Homo sapiens: one gene and its partners. The protein of the gene in region 1 purifies or fractionates together with the protein of each later gene. This does not show direct contact. Each region holds a gene or a part of one and is shown in the gene's direction. Other genes may lie near its edges. The genes, in order: MUC15, CDS1 and FCRL4.

The links.
Region 2: the proteins of MUC15 (region 1) and CDS1 purify together in Homo sapiens (affinity purification with mass spectrometry; 3 studies listed by BioGRID and IntAct, with this or other methods). This does not show direct contact.
Region 3: the proteins of MUC15 (region 1) and FCRL4 purify together in Homo sapiens (affinity purification with mass spectrometry; 3 studies listed by BioGRID and IntAct, with this or other methods). This does not show direct contact.

What each region holds. Positions count from the first base shown.
Region 1 is NC_000011.10:26,569,159-26,576,290, reverse strand, and holds the start of MUC15 (mucin-15), read left to right. Parts: upstream 1-4,027; 5' UTR 4,028-4,250; intron 4,251-7,132. UniProt on the Homo sapiens protein: May play a role in the cell adhesion to the extracellular matrix.
Region 2 is NC_000004.12:84,579,140-84,586,204, forward strand, and holds the start of CDS1 (phosphatidate cytidylyltransferase 1), read left to right. Parts: upstream 1-3,987; 5' UTR 3,988-4,262; coding exon 4,263-4,379; intron 4,380-7,065. UniProt on the Homo sapiens protein: Catalyzes the conversion of phosphatidic acid (PA) to CDP-diacylglycerol (CDP-DAG), an essential intermediate in the synthesis of phosphatidylglycerol, cardiolipin and phosphatidylinositol.
Region 3 is NC_000001.11:157,595,078-157,602,423, reverse strand, and holds the start of FCRL4 (Fc receptor-like protein 4 precursor), read left to right. Parts: upstream 1-4,338; 5' UTR 4,339-4,479; coding exon 4,480-4,510; intron 4,511-6,075; coding exon 6,076-6,096; intron 6,097-7,346. UniProt on the Homo sapiens protein: May function as an inhibitor of the B-cell receptor signaling. May function in the B-cell-mediated immune response.

The sequences.
Region 1 (7,132 bases):
CACACAACTAAGAAGTAGTGTCACTTTCTTTATTGTACAAATGAGAAAATATTCTTGGAAACGTGATGGCAATTATCCAAGGTTATGAAACCATTAAGTGGCAAAACCAGGATTCAAAACAAAGAAACTGTGACGTGGTAGCCTGAGCTTGTTCTACTCAGCACACTGCTTCCTTGGTGATTATAAATCTGGAGAATCTAGCCAGAGACAGAGCCCCAGAGTGCTAACACTGAATAAAGATTTCATGGGGCCACCTGAGCGACAAAGTCTTTCTGCTAACATGTGCGGACTATGATCACGTCAGCAAAAGTATCATTCTGAAGAAAGTATTGTTTATTTTTTAAATGTTTCCATCATCTTGTAACAACGCTATCCTCTACCTTTTTTGTTTTTGTTTGGCTAGAACTGGAAGGGAAGATAAAAAGATATAGTGGACACTATGTGAGACCCTAAATAATACAGAAAAATACCCAAGAAAATATTTTAAACCTATGAACAGCTTCAAGTACTATTAGCCATCACATAGAAATTATTGAAAATGTCTGATTTACTACTCTGAATTTAATAGCTGCACAATGTCAGTGGTTTTGAAAATGATTGTGTAATCGCTAAAATAATTTTGTGAAATTATTTATCTCCTTGTACAAAATTTCTTTCCATTATATATTTAAATAGTCGTAAAGGTTATGATTTCCAGTGCTTTATAAAAATGGACATTTTAAAATAAATTTATACTAGTATTTTATACCTAATTGTGTCTCTTTAAAAATATACCTTTAAAAAGCACTAATCTGTTGCAAAATTTAAATTGTTCATTTTATCTTTAAATCTATTTCCATCCAATTTCTACTTCAAAATATTTCTAATATATATTTATGTTTGAAAGTGTTGATTATCTTGCATAGTACTCTAAAATAATTTTAAAAATGAGATAGCAATTGTTTAAATTTTTAAAATTTCTTGTGACCATTAGGCTCTTACCTTAAAAAACAATTAGAATTGAGTAATCATCAGAAGTAATAAAACAATATAATCAATTTTAAATTTTAATGAATATTAAATGCAAAATCTAAGACTGTTATATTCTTAAGGATATCAATAGGGTTTGTGTTTGTTTTTCAATTCATATTTTATATTGTTACAATATGGTATTTTCAATTATATATTTTATATTTCAAAATGTTTACTAAGAAAACAGGTTCACATAAATATATAGATAGAAATGCAACAGGTTTTGCTATAGTCTTATCATTCAATTCTTTTAACTATGGTCGAATTAAATGCCCCAAATCACATAAAGATCTATCCTTTAAAGTTATTTTTAGTTGATTGACCAGGTTTACAACTTTCTTTAGCTCACCATTTATGTATGTATGCATGCAAGTATGTATACTTGCATATATGTATATGCAATATCATAACCTCTGCTTAACCAAGGGCATTGTCCTAGAATTTCCTTAACCCCAAAATGGAATATTTGACCTTTCCAAAAAGTTATAGTTAAGTGAAGAAGATCTTATTATAGCACCATATTACTTACCAGAGAAAGATAAACTTGAATAATAAACAACCATTAGCATTTATGAGAATAATCCCTCTATTTCTATCCTAATAGAATATTGAAATAAATTAAATGTTATCCCCAAATACATTTCCCAGCCGTTAAATTCTATTTTATTTATAAAGAATATCATTAAAATACTCTCAAATAATAGATTCATAATGTAATTTATTTTACTATTATTCAAATATTTCTTATTTGCTTAAAGTACCTATGTCCCTATGGGGAAACAAACATGAATTCCACTTGTAGCCTGTATCAGACTAAATATGCTATCAGTGAATCTGATCAATGCAAATTCCCTACATGTGACATCAGCATCAAGATTTGATGCTATAGGATTTGTACAAAAAGATACTCTTTTGGATTCAAAACAATGTTTTCAATTAGTTTGAAGTGTGGTCCCAAGCTATGTCTGCTTCTGTATTCAGATCCATTAGTGATATTCATGTGTCTTCGTGTTCTGGAAACTCCACTTGTGAGTGGTTCTATCATTGCAGACTAGGAAGAGGTTTTTCTTCCTCCCAGTATGTATTGTGAAACGTAATTAATGAGTGTAAAGCAATTGGTGAGTGCCAGATGAAAGGCACCATAGTGGGTAAGTACCAAAAAAAATTATACAAGCACTGCACAGTGTGTCATCTCAGCTGGGTTTGCTGATGAAATTGCAGGTAATTATCTCTCATTGTGGAGTTCCTCTGGAGAAAGGAGGTCTAAAGTGGGATTGGTCTTACCTAGAACCTAGGACTGTATCTCAGTGAAACTTGTTTGTTTGGCTAGAAATTACTTTTTAACTCCAACTCCATGAGTAAACAAAGGTTTCTGATAACAACTAAGTGAGCTAAGTAACAACTGAGGCATTAAATTTACGTACAGTTTACATTTTATAAGTTTATTTCCAGATGTGCTCAAGACAGTGAGGGTAGGTAAGGTTTATCTCTAGGGTGAGGTCTAATCAATTGATTATGATTGTAAGGAGGGCAATGATGAATAGGATTCTGGGCCCACAGAAAGGGTCTTCAGGAAAAAGCAACATGAGAAATTAGCGGGACTTTTATGGCAGTGAAAACGGAGAGCTATAGCAAAAGTGCATTGCAATGTTTATGCCTGGTATAAGCCATAATTACTATGGTTAAGGCAGAAGGGGATAATGATATTCCCACACATATTGCAGAAAAGGCCTAGGGAAAAGGTGCACCCAGTCCTGCCCAATCATGTTCAGTTCTCTAACTACAAACAGAAAATATATTTAGTTGGATTTTTACCTAAAAAGTGGCTAATCTGAAAATAAGCCATTGAATTCTATTAAGCCACTGTTCAGTAACTAACTGTTTGATTAAATTTAACCTGCTTTTCTTCGTACCACAGTAGAGACAGCTTAAATATCTTTTGAGACAATATTTTTTCGGGGTTGGTTTAATTTCTAATCAAACTCTGAAGGGGCCTTTGGGCTTCAGAAAATTTAAAACTATAGAATTACCTTGTTCTTTCCTCGGGCCAATTAACTGGGCAGATTCTTTGCATTCCATTTGAAGCTTACTAGCTCCTGCATTTTAGCTAAAGTTTCGTTTCTCGCTCAGCAGTTGAAAACCTATCTCCTTGTGCAGCAGAAACCAAGTATGAACCTCAGGCATATTGAGCTGAACGGCCCTTGGCGCCATCCCCAAACGCTGATGTGCGGAAGATCCCAGTTTCACTCTTCTCCCTTTCATAAGCTCTGAAAGGAAGTGTAGGAAGTATGCCAAGTTGTTATTCAACTCTAGTATTTAATCAAGCATTACCTGGGCACTTCTGAAATTCTCCAGCTTCTAAAGTGAGAGTAAACCAGAGAGAACACAGGGTGGAAACTACTTAATCGAGAAGGCTCCTAGGATAAGTGAGGATCACATGGCCATTCTCAGGCCCCAGTTCCTCTCCAAACTCCTGAAAGTCAGCAAGAAACCGAATCTCAGTCATGATGATTATTTTTCATGTAACACCTCACAGCGTTCTCAGGGATCCCAATATATGCTACTAATTCACTTTGTGTTAAGTAGGAGTTTCTTAAAAAAACAATTTCAGTGGACCTCAGAATAGACGCCTCACTACTGACCCCACTACATTTTCTCTACTTAGGCTTTAAGTACACAAATAGGGCAATCTACTAGAGTACAGAAAAATTGTTTATGATTTCAGAGAATGTGCGGCTGGCATAGAGCAACAAGTGCAGGGCATGACTTGTTTGGATTCCTCACCTGCAAGGAGCAGGGGGCCCAGCACATGTCAGAAATTCCTGCTATACCAGATGACTTTGCCAAAATCTTTGTCCTTTTTTTCACTTAGGGTGAAAAAAAAAATTGATGACCCGTGTTTTGCTACCACTGACGAGAGTAATACCTTGTCCCAAAGCTAAAACGATCAACCTATGAAAACTGGAGGGTTGGGCTTTTGTTGTTGTTGTTAAAGGCCTGAATGAGGTGATATCTTAATGCTTACAGCTGAGAAGCAGGTCAGTCAGGTTCCTGGGCGCTCTGTTACACAAGCAAGATACAGCCAGCCCCACCTAATTTTGTTTCCCTGGCACCCTCCTGCTCAGTGCGACATTGTCACACTTAACCCATCTGTTTTCTCTAATGCACGACAGATTCCTTTCAGACAGGACAACTGTGATATTTCAGTTCCTGATTGTAAATACCTCCTAAGCCTGAAGGTAAGTGTGCGTTGGGTCACTTAGGTCTCTCGCTTTCTCTCTTTCACTCTCTACTCTCTCTCTTCCTTGATTATTTACCAAAGAGAATCGCAGTGGTCTCAACTTTGACAGAACAGCCTGGCAAGTAGCTACGGCAATCCTTGCAGAGACAAGTAGTTGTTTTATTAAGTAATGACCTTCCAAATGAGTATTTGCACTCCTAAATGAGTTAGCTTTAAAAATTACTGCCAAATTTGCTAGATTACAGAACCAGCAGAAGAGTTAAATAAAAGCCTTATTTAAAACATACGTGACTATGAAATAGAATTTTCTTAAGTCAGATCTTAGTAAAGGTTTCAAAATGTTTAAAGTGGAAGTGGCAGCATGAATATAAATTGAATCTTAGATTTAAATTATGCATTTGTGCTGAAAGGTTTTTGCTTTAAGTATTAGAGGTTTTTGCTTTAAGTATTAGAATAGTTTTGGAAAAAATCTTCTAATAAAATAGATTAGAAGCTTCTATAAATCTTTTTCAAAGATTTTCTTAATTAAAAAGTTGGGAAACTGTTGTACAGTACATATAATTATTTAGCATGATATGTGTACATGTCTAACTTTCACTGGAAATCTAAAAGGTTACATCAGTTACTACAGAAAACATCCTATGAAATGAAAATGTGGTAAAATTTCTTAAAATTATTTTCATTTTGTGGCTATATAAGCCTCTTTTTTTATTAAAAGGATGCTGATTTCCATTTATCTACTTTCTATTTAGTCTGTAGAGGCTGCTCCTATAGACATTACAGTATGATACAGAAGGCTGGAAACCCTATGCTTGAAAATTTTGATCTAGAACTTTCCTTTCGGAGAAACTTTCTTTCTTTCTAAGCTTGACACTCATCACTAATTAGTTAAGTACTGAATTTTATGACTGAAAACTCCCAAGGTAGCAGGTCATATGACAAACTCTACATTTTTCCTGTAGTTACATAGCCTAAGTCTTTTAGCCAGAATAATGTTCTCAAACTTCTGAAATTTGTTTTTTTCTTGAAAGAAAGCCAGTCTTTTCTTTTTTATTTTTTCTTTCTTTTTACATCACATAAAAGTAAAATGAGAGGCCTAAGTTTCTCAGTCACAATCCTTTTTCTAGTTGGTTACGCTTCCAAAACCCTCTCATAAAAGAGGCATTTTTAGAAGGATGTCTTATGTCCTCATTTATTGTTGCTCTTGAATTTAGGAAACTAAAAATACTGTCCAACATTGGAAAAAGTCACTCAGAGTAACACTCAAGTTCTTCCTGAGATGTTAGCTACATAGCAGACAGAGTTTTCTTTGAGAGACAAACAAAACCCATCTGTCTTAATTTGTAGCCTAACATCTGTGAGAAGAAATGATCAAACACAACTTGGAGAAAAGGCAGCCCAATGTATAGTCGTCAGTGATTTTACTATAGAAACATGTTTTTATATTATGCCTGCAGTATACCTGAACTGATGATTCTATTTAGAATTTCTGATTTTGATTCTGTTTAGAATGAGTAGCATTTCTTTGCCCTTATATGGGTTAATTACCTGACATAAACCAGGACATCTCCTTATTTCCAAAGCTTGGTATAAAATAAGTATGACCCACGATTTCAACAGAGAGCCTGGACAGAATAATGACTTTATGCATTTAAAAGGAAGCAAAAATATGGACAGTGAATGTGGGTTTGCTTCCCTTACTGGCCAGAGGTGTTTTTTGTTTTTGTTTTTTCTCATCACTTTCTGCAGCCCTCCATACAAAAGTAATAATGTGAAACCACTTTCCAGTGCCAGTAACAAAGAAGGCGAAAGTCGTGTTCATTCTCCCTCTGTAGAGGAGTTGTTCTAAAACAGTGACACTATGAAAATATATTTTAAAACTAGTTAAATTTTAAAACAAAAAAAATGTTAATATATACAGGAAAGTTTAGAATCTGTATTTAAGGTATCACAAAGGAACTGGAAATCCTCCTTTCTTTCTCTGTTCACTTTATAGTAATTCTACCTTTAGAAGGTTTTCGAGTTTGTGATGATCCTAAACCTCTATTTTATAACTTCAAAATTTCTCTTAGGAGCTACCACCCAGATGCAAAAAGAGGCAAAGATCAGGAGGTGAAATCATTACTGGGTTCTCCTGATTTCTCTCCCTCTGCAATTCTACTTTTCTTTCATCCCACCTTCTGTCTGCCCCCACAGTGCACCTGGCTGACAGATGAACTTGGGTGCACTCAGGGATACCATCCATAATCCATCATCATTTCAGCTTTATAAAGCAAGTATATAACATAGAGTTAGATATTTGAACTCCAGAGATGGAGAGAGGCTAAAAGGAAAGCACACACGAAAGTAAAACATATATAGATTTCATTTGTTGCCCTCTGGAGTTGCTGTCCCACCTCCATTAGGCTTCTGTCACTTGCAATGTGCTTTGTTCAGTTGGCATGAGGTCAAACTTCGGCCAAATCTCCTGGACCTTACTCCAGCAAAATTTCATGGTGGGGTTCTGAATAACGGATGACTTCAATTCCTGGCTGCTTCTACGACTTTAAGATGAAAGGAACCTGAGTAAGTGGCGTAACCTGGCTCTCCTAGAAGCCAGGCAGCAGAGGCAAACTTGTCCCTACTGCAATGTCAGGACAATCCGTCTTCACAAAAGCCTTATCTGTAGTGTATAAATTTCTGAATAAACCATAAATATTTAATAGTATTCACAACATACTGAACTACCCCTCTCTTCCATTTCTCTCCTTTTCCTGGGAGATAAATTATAGGCAGTAACAGAGTGCTTCGCACGTTTGGGGGTGTTGATACCCTAGGTTTTCAAGTTACAATCAAAAGCTGGGTAAAGGAATGAGAGATCCCCTTGGTGGTTCAATGTCA
Region 2 (7,065 bases), on another chromosome or scaffold:
TTTAGGATATAGCTTCAGCTGTGTTTGATGAAAATGTTGCTGAAAGCAAATTAGGTCACAGCTAGATTCAAGCTATGATTCAAGCTAGGTTCAAGCTATGACTCAAACCCAGGGTTCTTGGTATAGAAACTCCATACTTCTAACTACACCATAGCACTCTCTCCTCTGATACTCTCTCACTACAATACTTGATAGTACACCATTATTTTCCCGTGCAATTCCATTAAAAATAAAAATGTAAATATAAGTTGTTTTTCAAGATTTTCCCATAAAATGTTTCTCTGGTGGCCTAAATCAGAAATTCCTACCTCTAACTTATAAACAAAGCTGACAGAGGGCAACAGAGAAAGATAGGTCAAGCGACAAAAGCTGTTACTTGGGTATCTAAGCAACTGGAAACGCTTGGCTGAGGAAGATTTCTTCCGCCCCTGGCAAGCTGGGGACATTCCAGCAGGGCACCTTTGAGCCTCTGATGTGAAAAGCAGCTCAGATTCACATTCCCACCCCAGAGGGGCATGTTTATCAGTCTGGGAACATTCTGAGGGTATTCAGGGAAGAGTGGTAACAAACTGCTTCATCTACTCTCACTACTTCAGGCAACGTCTCTGCATCTTATGCTCTTATTACTTCCAGCAAAAGAGAAGGTAAACAGTAATCTAAAATAAAAACCATATAAGCAATAACGTTAGCACTCTCTCTCATCTCTCTAGCAAATTCCTCATTAGGAGTTAGAAGGTGAAAAAAAATTTTTTTTAAAATTTTTTTTTTAATTTTTTTGAGATAGGGTCTCACTCTGTCACCCAGGCTAGAGTGCAGTAGAGTGAACAGGGGTCACAGAGGCCTCGAACTCCCAGGCCCAAGCAATCCACCCGCCTCAGCTTTCCAAGTAGCTGGGACTACAGGCACACGCCACCATGCCCAGCTAATTTTTAAATTTTTGTGTAGAGATGGGGTCTCCATATGTTGCCCAGGCTGGTCTTGAACTTCTGGGCTCAAGAGACATTCATGCATCAGCCTCCTAAAGTGCTGGAATTACAGATGTGAGCCACCACGCCCGGCTGGAAAATCTTAAAATCAATCCAAGAAGTGCTGGCTGGGTTGTACTACGTGATTAGGCCCATGCATATGCTTAGGGTTTCCATGAAGCCCTTCAGCAGGATAAATACAAGAAAAATTAACAGGTAAAGCCTTAGAAACCATTACACGCCAGATTTTGTGTTACCAAACACAAATACAATAAATTTAGAGAACATAAGTTCCCTGAATGAAAACGAAAGATAAAAATAAAAAAGAAAGAAAAAGGAAAAATTAGAAAAAAGACATAGAAAAAGTCTGAGAACACAGAGTTCCGTAAGCCAGTTGTGGTTGAGTATATTGTACAGTATCTTAAGTAAAATAAAGTCATTACTACAACCACTTTTAATAAGTATTAAAATCAACTTCTCTCTGATATAAAGTGAAAATGAAGAAAAGTGTCTATGTAAGTCTAAAATAGACTTTAAATGAAGAAACCATAAATACTATACATTCATGGGTTGCATAACAATGTTTCAGTCAACAATGGACCACATATACCACTGTAGCCTATAAGATTATAATACCATATTTTTATAGTACCTTTTCTATGTTTAGATACACAAATACTTACCATTGTGTTACAGTTGTCTAAGTAATAGGCTATACCATGTAGCCTGGGTGTGCAGTAGGCTATGCCATCTAGGTTTAGTATACCCTGTGATGTTGCCCAATGATGCATTTCTAAGAATGTATCCCCACTGTTAAACAACATATGACTGTATAAATTTCCCTTGTTGTGCTATACCTTTGCCATCCCATCATTTCTTCATTCACCTCTTCAGCAAACATTGTTACCTATAGAAGGGTGGTTTTTGGCACTGTGGAAAGAGCTAGACCTGTAAAGATGAATAAGCCAGTTTCTGCTGTCTGGACTCAGTCTATTCACTCAACTAGTGGTAATAGCTATAATGAAGAAGATTGAAAGAAATTGCTCTCTTAGCTAAAACACAAGAAGGAGCAGAGCTTAAGGAAGGTGAGGTAAGTAGAACCTCACATTCTATTTTGGCAGTCTTTGCATTGGTCCCACTTTTCCTGGGTTGGGGAATACTGTTTCTTCTATCACGCACTACTGTCCTCTGTTGTTCCCCTCTGTCACTCCTCTCACTCTCTTTTTTCCTCCTGCAGCAAAGGGAAAAAGTCAAAGAGGCCATGAGAGGACTAGGCAAAGGGGAAACAGGAAGTTGTTCAGGTACCTTGTGTAGTAGGTCTCCTTTTCTTGGACCATGGGGGAAAGCAAAGGCTGGATTCTGATCGTCTAAGAGCTAAAAGGGACCACAGAGGCCATCCTTACTATCCGTTTACAGCTGAGGACACTGAGGGTTAATAACTTACCAAGGCCATGCAATTAGTGGCATTGGCAGCACTAGAACTCAGGCTTCTTGACTTCCAGAGAGTTAGAATGGAGCACTTCTAATCCTTTATGCAGGGTAGGGTAGTAGCCAGAGATGGAAACCCTACTACTGGCTTCAGCCATTATTCTGATTATCTTCTTCACTATCAAGCACTCCTTCATTTCCGATCCTCCAAACAATTGGACAATTTATTAATGTAGTCACCCCATAGTTCTCTGTTCAGTAGGGACTTATTTTCAAATCTTCTCTGTCATTTCAGTTATCCACCCCATAAGGAACAAATTATGGTTTCTCGACATCCTTTTGAAAACGTGCAACCCAAACTAACCGCACAGCTTCAAAGATCTGTTTGGTGAGGTAAAATGATGTCTTTGTGTTCTGCTTTTCAATGCATCCTAATTTGACTTTTGGTTTTGCTCATTTGTTAGTAAATTTTCAACACTTTACTTACTTTTACCGTGTCAGTAAAGACCTTGAGGAATTTACATAGTTGATCTATTTCTATAAGGGTGCTCTCCTGAACCTTGTCCTGTGTGAAGGCCCGCCTTTTTTCTTTTTTCTCTTTGTTTCTCTCTTTTTTTCATTTGTTAGCTTGTCAGTAATGACCGGGTGGCGGATACATGTCAAGAAAACTAATCACCTTCTAACAGGATTAAGACTAGAATTAATGCAGATCTTGTGCCCTTCCTGTTCCCGCTTTGGCAGCCCAAGGTCCACCACTGCTCAGAGACTAGCTGGAGGGCAACGGCGTCCCATAGCATCTCACACTGTGTTGGGATCCTAGGTGGTGACCTTTGTGAGATTCAGTACTGAGTTTCTGGGAGACGGCGCTGCGGTTGTGATCGGAATTGTTGGCCGACGCACCTCTGGACGCCCAGTGAGGCAAAAGCATCTCCTGTTTTCAAGGTGATGACACTGGGCTGGAATGCCGCGGGGCCAACCAGTCCGTCCTGCCAGACAAGTTTCTGGTCCAGTGAGCCTCCGACCCGCCGCGCGTGTCAAGCTGACAAGGCCGGGGAGGCGTTTGAAGCAGCAGTGTTGAGCGCTGTTAACATTTAGCGGGCGTCTTTGAGTAGCTCCTCCAGCCCTCGCAGCGGCCCAGGGACTAGCCTGCAAGTTCTCAACGCTCACTTCCAGCCCGCGCTGGCCCCGCCTCCGCCTCCCAGCTCCTCAGCCTCCTCCCGCCCCACCGCTCCCACCTTTTCTCAGGCCCCCACCTGCCAGCACGCAGAGGCGGGGGCGGGGTCGCGGGCCGGGCTCCTGACGTCACCTCACGGGGAGGCGGGGCTGTGGGAACCGCAGTGCAGCGCAGAGGGGCGGGGCCTGCGGCGCGAGACCTGGTGCGGGAGGCCCGGGCAGGGAGAAGTGTGCGGGGCCGGGACAAGCCGGCTCCGAGTCCGGCTCCGGGGGGCGGGGCGGGAGGGGCCTGCGCGGCGGCGGGAGCCCAGAGCCGCGCTAAAGCGGGTCAAGCGTCCTCCTTTTCTCCCCGCCCCTTCTCCTCCTCCTACCTGGGCCTCTGCGTGGAGACGCGCACCTGGCAACCGGAGGCCGCGTCTCCGCCTTCTCTGCTCGCGCCTGGCGCCCGGAGCCTGCCCGGGACCTCCGCCGGAGCCGCGCTCGCTGCAGGCGGCCTCGAGCGCTCTCTCGTTGATGCCGTTTTGGAGGTGACCGGCGCGGCGGCCGCTCTATGGTGGGGCCGCGTTAGTGGCTGCGGCTCCGCGGGACTCCAGGGCGCGGCTGCGAGGTGGCGGGGCGCCCCGCCTGCAGAACCCTGCTTGCAGCTCAGGTTTCGGGGTGCTTGAGGAGGCCGCCACGGCAGCGCGGGAGCGGAAGATGTTGGAGCTGAGGCACCGGGGAAGCTGCCCCGGCCCCAGGGAAGCGGTGTCGCCGCCACACCGCGAGGGAGAGGCGGCCGGCGGCGACCACGAAACCGAGAGCACCAGCGACAAAGTAAGTGGAGCCGAGAGAGGCGGACGCCGCGCCCTGGCTGGGTCCTGGTTGGAAGCGGGACACTTGAGAGCAAGGGTGGGGCCCGTCCAGCGTCAGGTGAGGCTGCACGCTGCCGGTGCACCTTCCTCCCTGCCTGGCACTGCTTCCTCCTTCTCCAGAGGGGGTCGGGACCCGGGATCCCAGTGGCGGTGAGGTTCCCAGGATGACCGCGGCCGCTGCCCGGGAGAAATGGGCCACTCAACCCGGCTTACAGTTTAGCTTCATCCTCTTCCGGTCCCTTCTTCAGGATCTGGGGCCGACGCTGGAATCAGGAGGGAACCTGTCCTCCTAGGGGCTGCAGTGCAGTTAGTAGCTGCCACCTCACCTCTCTTTTCAGTAGAGGGAACAAAGTTAGTAAGGACTAGAGACGTGCCACCGTCGGCTGTATCATTTCATCGGATCCTGACGCGGGAGGCTTGGCTTCTCGCGCTGCCCCATATGCACTTACATTTTCTCCATCCTTTTTCAGTATGATAGATTTTGGAGGTTTTAGAGTATCATGCACGTGACATAATAGTAATCTTCCAGCTTCTTTTGAGTACACGACAGACAGTGCAATTCTTCTGTCTACCAGTAGATTTCATATAACCCGACGTTAATTCATGAAGACTTTTCACTTCCTTTTCTATAGATTACTCTTCTTTCACATTTAAGAATAAGTAGATGCGATATTACTATCTGTTTAAAGCTAGAAAAGGAATTCGGGCGTGTTTGGTAATATAGTGGTGCAAGTAAGAACTTGTGAAGAAATGCAGTTTTATGATCTTATGGACTGGATGGTTTGGGAAATTGGACCAGAGAATAGATTGTTGTATCAAACCGTCTGTTTAGAAAATTCCATTTTATTTGAGAAACCCAAAACACGTAAACTGTTTCTAGAAGCATACTTTGGAAGCAGGCATTGCAGTTTGAATTACAGAAGTGAGGTGGATTGCCCAAGGTCAAGTTCGTGGCTCTTGAAACTAGAATCTAAGTTTCCTGATTCCTTTTCTTCTGGTTTATGTGGTTGCTGAGACTGGCTGGCAGTTCTGATTTGGGGAGGATTCCACCTGAAAGTTGATGTTGATGAGTTTGATGTAACCCAAATTACAAAGCCCTAATAGGAACATATCACATGATATCACGAAATAAACGTAAACGTGATTCTTAGTACTAAAACTTTAGAATCAATGGAATCAATGTAGTGACACTTTTCCCCTTACCCTTGATAGTAAGTAGAATAAAATGAGTCTGTAATAAAACATAAGTGTCAAGGAATTACCCAAAATATAACAATTTCCAGCTACTGAAGGTTGAAGTTACAAAACTAGGAACAGTGGGCTGAGAATAGTCTTTGTGAAAACTGCCTTGGAAACTAGACCCAAAATAGAATTAATTAGGTTGGGATTTGTTTTGTTTTGTTTTTAGCACTGGTATAGTTTAGCATCAAGGAAATACCAGCTTCTCTATGCTGACTTCCTTAACTCGACAAAGCTAACAAGCTTTTGTTAAGAGAAAAGATGTTCAGGAAGCCATGCATAAAATACCTTCGGAATTAAGTTTTTTCTTTTTTTAACACCATAATGTATTTAAAATGGAAACTACTTCTGTAGTGTGATTTGACTCATTAGAACTGTTGTCTCTAGCTATCTGTGACTAGGTTACCTCGCTGCATATTTATTTATTTATCAATGCAGTACTGTTGGTTTTTATTGACACATGTCCAGCTGGATTTTGTTTTCTGAAAGTAGACTTTGCTATATGTAACCTGTTTTGTCAAGATTTCTTAGACAAGGATGAACATATTCAAACCATATCTAAAATACTGCTCTACTTTTAGAGTTTATCATGAGGAACTTTTGACTTGGCAAGCTGATAGATATTGAACTCTATCCCTGTCTGTCCTTTCTTATCAGGGTGTGTATTTGAATACACCTGTATTTCCAGGTCAAGGGCTATTTTAAAATCAGTTTGCACACTGGAGGCTGGTTAATATTTGGTCAATTCAAACTCATTAAGGGCCTTCCCTGTTCAGTTGCAGTAAAGGCAAAACTCTTGGGGAATTAGTGAAAGAAGTGAAGGAGGTACATTATATTCTGCTATTATAATACACTCCCATGCATTGCCATTTTGTAGTCTTTTAATAATGGTGTTATTAACATGACACTCCCTTTGTTCCGGACTGGTGACTTATGCTGAGAGAAGGCTCTGTACTCCAGATAATTAGCAAGTGAAAAAAATACTTCTTACCTGCAGAGGAATGTTCCCAAGTGTTAAATGTTGGAGTGGTACTTGAAAAATGACAAGGGACATCTTCAAGGAACCCTGCAGGAGACATATATGAGTTAGATTTATTGGAAGTCTGTACAAGGCTCATTGTTAGCATAGAGGGCATGCTTGGCGTCTACCTGGAGACTGTAGGAAAAGCTCTAAACAGTGGATGAGGATTGAGCTGGGAATGAAAAGATTCCTGGGACTCACCAGGTTTACAAGGGTTTGGGTAGGGTGTTCTAGGCAAAGGACGTGTTGGGTTTTTTCTTGAATCAGCATTCTAGGCACAGGGTTGCAGATACAGAGGAAGAGATAATGAAGGTCCTGAGAGCAAAAGGAGGAGGCATTGCTTAGAGCAGTGGTCCCCAAATTTTTTGGCACCAGGGATCAGTTTTGT
Region 3 (7,346 bases), on another chromosome or scaffold:
TCAAATCTGGTGTCCATTTCACACCCTCTACTACATAACTGTGGATCTGTGAATCTGGAATAGAGGGCACTAACAACCTGCGATTCTGTTCTCACTTTGGACAAGTTTTTGAGCAAAAAGATCTGTATGTTCATGAAGATAGAAGAGTCTCGACTTAGAACAAGAAATCATCTCGGAAACGTCTCTAAAACAAAAGGAGATTATATTTTACCACTGAAGGCTAGAAATATTATTATCTGTAGTCATGGAAAATAAAATGCGGCTTCTAGATGGCACCAGCCTACAAATAAATGTAATTGAGCTTCTTCACTGCCTTTTCTTTGAAGTTCAAAGTTGATTACTCCAAGCGGCTGTTCCTCCATTACTAACAAATGGCTATAGAAATCATTACGTATACAGCCACTGATTTGGGAGAAGAGTCTTTTAATAGCAAGAACAACAAATTTATCTTTCCAGTATTTTTCCCACCCATAAAGCACTGACAAGACCACAGACTCCCTGTCACATAGTTAAAAATGTATGATTCTCCCGTAGTAGTAAAGACCATACTCAGCACTCAGATCTTGGTTTCTAAATATCAGTCTCTACTGAAAGGAATTGGGGCTCCTTGAAGAAGTGGCTGATTCTAGAGTTGGGGCAGGAAAATGTAAGATGAGCCAGGAGCATCTCGTAGTGCCAGACAGTACAGAAATGTTCCAACAAGGAAAATGATGAGAGTTTCTCAAAGGCACAAAGAAGAAGCTGACCTGAAAGAGCTCCCAATCACCAAAGCTGGATCAATTTGAGCAACAAAATATATAAAGCATTATATTGTTACCAAAGTTTAAAGTAAATATACAAATCTATAGTGATATAAATAAATGATTGAATGGATGAATACATGAATAAGTAAATAAGAACAAGGAGACAAATCCCCCTACCTCACCTCTCACCCTGACTGTGGGCTGGACTTGCTCCCAAACGAAAGAATATAGAAAAAGACAAACAGTAATTTTACATCGAAGAAACCTGGCAAACACTACCTTAACCAAGTGATCACAATTTACATTACCAGTGATAAGTCATGTTGAGATTCCATACCCCCAATGTGATGAGAAGGACACTCTACCGCTGTAGTATTCTTTGTGAAAACTCATAACCCCAGTTTAATTATGACCAAAACGTCAGACAAACCCAGATTGAAAGACGCCGCAAACTACCTAGCCAGTACTCCTCAAAACTGTCAAGGTCATGAAAAACAAGGAAACACTGAGAAACTCACAGATGGAGAAGAGACGTCTGTGAGCAAAGATAGCTAAATGTAATGTAGTATCTTAGAGGGGATACTAGAAGAGGAAAAAGGTGTCAATGGAAAACTGAAACAAGCTGGATAAAGCCTGTAATTAATAGTAATGTAGAGACGGAGCAAAGATAACTAAATGTAATGTAGTATCTTAGAAGGGATACTAGAAGAGGAAAAAGGTATCAATGGAAAAACTGAAAAAAGCTGGATAAAGCCTGTAATTAATAGTAATGTAGAGACGGAGCAAAGATAACTAAATGTAATGTAGTATCTTAGAAGGGATACTAGAAGAGGAAAAAGGTATCAATGGAAAAACTGAAAAAAGCTGGATAAAGCCTGTAATTAATAGTAATGTAGCAATCTTGGTTTCTTAGTTTTGATAAATGCACCCCCATGATGTGAAATGATAACGGTAGGGGAAATTGAAACAGGTGAGGGCTTCCTATATGGGAACTCTTTGTATTATCCTTACTATTTTATATAAATCTAGAATTACCCCAAAATGAAAATTTATTTTTTAAACTGTAAAGGTTTAAATGTTTTTCAAAAAAAAATTAGAAAAGTTTAAAAATTTCAGTTTCTTACATTCTCATTGAAAACAATTATTTTTGTCCTTTGTTAATATAAAATCTAAAAGTTCCTGGTTAGTCAAGCAATTGCTTAATAAATCATGGTATATGTACTTCCTGGCTGATGTTTCAAAGTACTAACCACACTTCTGGCACCAATAACTAAAATATTTCTGTCAGTGACTTAAATACCACAACAAAAATAGTACTTGACTGACGTAAACTTAAACATTTACACAGTAGTTGTAAATAAATATGATTTTTGTGTTTGGACATCTTGTATAACATCATAAATGTGAAATTTTATTTTGCTAATTGAAATCTATTCATTCAGCAAAACTTATGGTAGAAACAAGAAAACAGGCAATATGATTTCAACTTCCCTCAATCCTTAGTCAGTCAATAAATATTGGAGTTCTAAACTCATGCTAAATACTATTTTCCAGTGTTATAAGGAATACAAAAATGTTGGTAGGATATTATGTCAATTATAAAGTGCTTTTTAGTTCATTATACTTGTTACTTCTAGTATTACAGAATAGTTCTCAGCATAGGGACTAAGCTGAGAGTTCTATGTCATTAATGTATTCATACAAACATCAATAACAACATCCACTTCAGCTGGACATTATTTTTATCTCCTTTTTACCAGTGTGAAAGAGGCTAAGTACTTGACCAGAGTCACCCAACTAGCAAGAGGTGAAGTCAAGATTTCATCCAGATGTGTGGGATTCTGCAGATCAGGTTCTTGACTGCCATTTTATACCCTTGCTCCTCCTGGGACAAATGAAGGCAGCTGAAAGATGACAGCACGGTCACACGGCAAGGAGACAAAGGACCCATGTGCCGCCTTGACAGCTCTATGTCTTTATGGTTCCTTGTGTCTATGTCTACTCTGGCCCTTACCACATTGACTTTTTTAAAGTCTTTAAGAGAGATGCACTTTATTCACCTTTTTATTCTTCTAAGGCCATGGACATTGTCTAAAATATAGTTGATGTTCAATACAAACCCTAGTTAGAAAATAAATTATTACAGATATATAGAAAAACATTATATTAGAAAAATACAGACCACTCTTAATCCATCCTATGTCTATTATCTATTCACAGATATCTTGATGTGATGGTGATGGTCACGATAACTGCCTTCCATCTTAGTGCATGCTCATCTCTCAGTCCTAGAATGATATTCTTTCAGCTTGGATGTTACTTCCTCAGGGAAGCCTCTTATGCATCCCCAGAACTGGGTCAGATTTCCCTCTTAGTGGACTCTCAGAAATTACATACAATTCACTTCTATGTAATTTCCTGTTGACTTGCTGTCTTCTCCACCAGAATGAAAGCTTTCCAAGTCTTGATTAACACTGTACTTCCAGCACCTGGCACCATACCTGAAGCACCATGGTGTTTCTTTTTTTTTGCCATTAACATTTTATATATATATATATATATATATATATATATATATATATATATACACATACATATACACAAGATAATAGCATAAAAAAGTTTTAAAGAGTTATACATACCAAAATATTATACGTACCAAAAAACGTCACTACGGATTTTTCCATTTTTTTCTTAATTTTTTTTTTAAGTTCTGGGATACATGAGCAGAGTGTGCAGGTTTGTTATGGGTAGGGAGAGCATTAGGTGTTTCTCAAAACACCAAACAGCATGTTGCCCAGTGTGAAAGAATCCAAATGGCAAAAATCAAAATTTAATAGAATTATTTAAATACCCACTCTGACTTCCTGACGTGAATCGCTTCTCAAGGCTAAAGCCATCATATTTTCAGAACTCTCTAGCCTCTTGTCTTTCAAGGAAATCACAACTTCTTCTCTCTGCCACCAGATACCAGGCATATGTATTTCAATCAATATATATTTGCCAAGACATTCCTGTAGCAAATTTTGGATTCTAGGACATTAAGTAAAAATGTTATGGCCTATTATCTAGGAAGAGCATGATGGGGCTATAATTTACTCCTCAGCTTGCCTTCTACTCAGATCAAAAGTTGTGGTTTCCCCCTGGACTGATGAGTCAGGATATTTTCATATATATCAGACAAGGTGAGAGTTGTCTTGTGATTGAGATGTTTCATCAGGTCTACAGACGGCCTGCTGGAGGTGTTCCAGTAGAGGTATCAGCGGTCAGAGGAGGCCTTTTCTGTGTTGAATGAGAAATTCTTCATCTCTGGGGATATTCAGGGACATCCTTAGATTATGTGGATTTCAATAGGCCTGCAATCTCACCTCATCTCTAGTAGCAGAGAGAATAGGTTGTGATTTCCTTGAAAGACAGAGCCTAGAGAGTTCTGAAACTAGAGTAGCTTTAGCCTTGAGAAGTGATTCACCCCAGGATGTCACAGCAGTACTTAATTCTATTAAATTTTGATTTTTGTGGTCTGGATTCTCTCACACTGGTCCACATTGCTGTTTGGTGTTTTCAGAAAGATTCCTCTACTTCCCCCTTTCACTTCATTATCTCAATCAGCTTTATGCAGAGAAGAAGCTTACTGAGCTCACTGCTGGTGCTGGTGTAGGCAAGTGCTGCTTTGGCAATCTGGGCTGACCTGGCTTGTCTCCTCAGAACTCCTTCTCCAATCCTGGAGCAGGCTTCCATGCTGCTGTGGGCGTCCTTGCTGGCCTTTGGTAAGTGATGGGGAGGAGACCTTTGCTTGCTGCAAAGCTGAGCCTCACCATGAGCAAAAGCCCTCTTTTCTGCTGCTGCAATCATGGATTTTTACTCCCATTTTAGAACAGCAGAAAATGAACAAAAAGGAAAGATAATGATTTACTGGTAGAAGGGGAAAATGATAATAATTGATTTCCAAAGATGTATTTCTCATCTATTTTTGCTATGAATTGCCTATGGAAAATCATTTTACCCCCAAATGGACTTATTTTGTTTATGCAAAAAGAAACCTATGGCTAGGTTCAGTCCCTACGTCACAGAGCATGAGGACCCAGAGGAAAAGATGGACTGAGTTATTTGTGAAGGATAAAGTCCTGATTGTGAACTCAGGTAGAAAGGATCACCTGCTGAGAATAGTTATTTCCTTCTCTGTATTCTAAGTTCAAACCTGTTCTGATGTTTGCAAAGAGCATGAGAAGAGAAGAGATAAGATGATTTCCCTTTGATTTTTTTCTTCCTGCTTTTGTACCACTTGTCAGTGTTTGTCCAAATGAGGCACGGATTTCCTAGTTGCTCAAACTAGGGAATTAAAGAACAGTCAGTCTTTTGTTCATTAAATATTTATTAAGCGTATTTGTCTAGTTCCCACCTGATCCCCAGACCCCAACTAAGGGAAGACCTATTAGTGTGATTGGCACATGATAGGAACTAAGGAGTGAGTGGATGGGTATACTTGGCATGCCACACTGCTGGGCACCACAGAGGATGCAGAGACCTGAAGGACACAGATTCTGCCCTCAAGAGGTGACATTCTCAATAGAACCTCAACGTACACATGCAAGAACATCTGACTCGACAATATGAGAAAAATATTACACAAATAGTTACAGGATAATGTGTGAGGATGTCAGTTAATTTGTGCTAAGCCCTGGCTACATCCCACTTTTCTAAGGGCACCCCATGTATAAATGTATCCAATTCTCTAACATTTGATCAGGTGGAACTTTTATAACTCCCATTTACAAATGAGGAAATGAAGGCACAAAGATGTTGGTCTTGTCCCTGAGGTTTATGCAGCTAGTACAGTGGCAGAGTCAGGATTCGAACCCATAATCTAACTTTGGAAACTAGGCTTTTAACTACTACCCTCTACTGTCTGTCTCATTTTGAGTTCCAAATTAGCTATGATAATAAGTGTTCTGAGTCAAGAGAAGAGGAATCAGCAGCAGCCCCATACTAAAAAATTAATGACAGCAGCCATTAATTGAAACCTTACTGATCTAACTCATTACAGTATTACTATGAGGTCGCTTTCATGAGCCTCATTTTTCAAATGAGAAAACTGAGACTTGAAAGTTCATGTGGTTTGCCCTGGGTCATACAGCTAAAATTCAAACCAGACTGTCTGAGTCCACAGCCTGAGCGTCTGGCCACTGTGTTTCCCCGCTTCCCTGGGATGGATGGAATGGAACGTGTTTCTCTTCCTCTTGGTTGGAAGTAGCATATGAGTGTATGGGCTCTCAGGGTGAATAGTTCGGGACTCTTCGCCTACGCTGATGGCTGGCTCTTTACTCTCTTTCAGCTCCAGTCTGTGGACAATCTGGTAAGTCCTTATTTTCTTTGCTCCTTTATGTCTCTAGATACCCTAATAACTATATTTTATCTCAAATACTTACAAGAGTCCCTGTTGTCCATTTCATCCTTTTCCTGAGTGCTGCAGGGATGTAGAGACATCAGCTCGTGTGGTGACTCTGACCCTAAGAACCAGGCTATTTGGGGGTGACTCTCTTAAACCAAAACTGCCATTGTGCTGGCTAAACATGGCAGGGCCTGGGATATGTGTCACAGCGTCCACAGGAAGAGGAGCTGTCACCCCGCCTGATGTGGGATTCTAGCCAAGCCTGATGGAATGCATAGCATCCCAAGAGGAAAAGGGTAGAAATAAGCCAATACTTCAGAGGGGGAGGCTGGGGCTCCAGCAGCTTTTCCACTAACCATGTGTAACAAATTTATCCCCAACTTCTGCATCCCATGGAGACACACTTCTCTGTTAATAGCTCAAATTATGATGACTCTGAGTCTCCATCTATCCTACTGGTCAGCAAAAAGTCCCATCCTCTATAGGCAGCTGCCTCACAGGTGTTTTGGCCATTCCTATAGAGCACCCTAGGAGCTGCTGGAGCCAGCAAGGGCCTTGGCCCCCTTGAGGTGCACTGTCTCTTGCAGCTCCTAACTCTGCTGTTCTTCCCCTCCTCGGTGCCTTGGACACAGACTATTTCCCACACACCCTTCCTGAGACAAGATTATAACTTGGCAGACTTTGCTAATGGTTCTAGAATGGGGAAATGAAATACAAAAAGTGCCTTGAATTAACTGCAGCTAGGGATGTGGTTAACCTCAGAGCCCATCAACTCAGTCTCAAACACACGAAGGCCATGAAAAGTTATGTCCCTTCCTGGCCATAGGGCCACCTGCACATAGCAGGGGCAGCTTCCTCAGAGCAAAGAAGAGTCTAGTTGCATACATCAAAGGAAATCAACTCTCCTTCCCTCCAGTAGAAGACCTATTGCCTAAGTCCCAATGGCCCTGCATCCAGGTGCTTCCCAGGAATATAGCTGGTAGGGTTTTCTATTCTCTTCAGCAGAAACACAGCCCCATTCCCACTGATGACATAGAGTATTCTGTCCAAACCTTTAAAGACAGAATTTTCTTTTTAAAAAGTGTCTGCAGAGGCTGGGCACAGTGGCTCATGCCTGTAATCCCAGCACTTCGGGAGGCTGAGGTGGGTGGATCACTTGACGTCAGGAGCTCAAGACCAGCCTGGACAACATGGTGAAACCTCATCTCTACTGA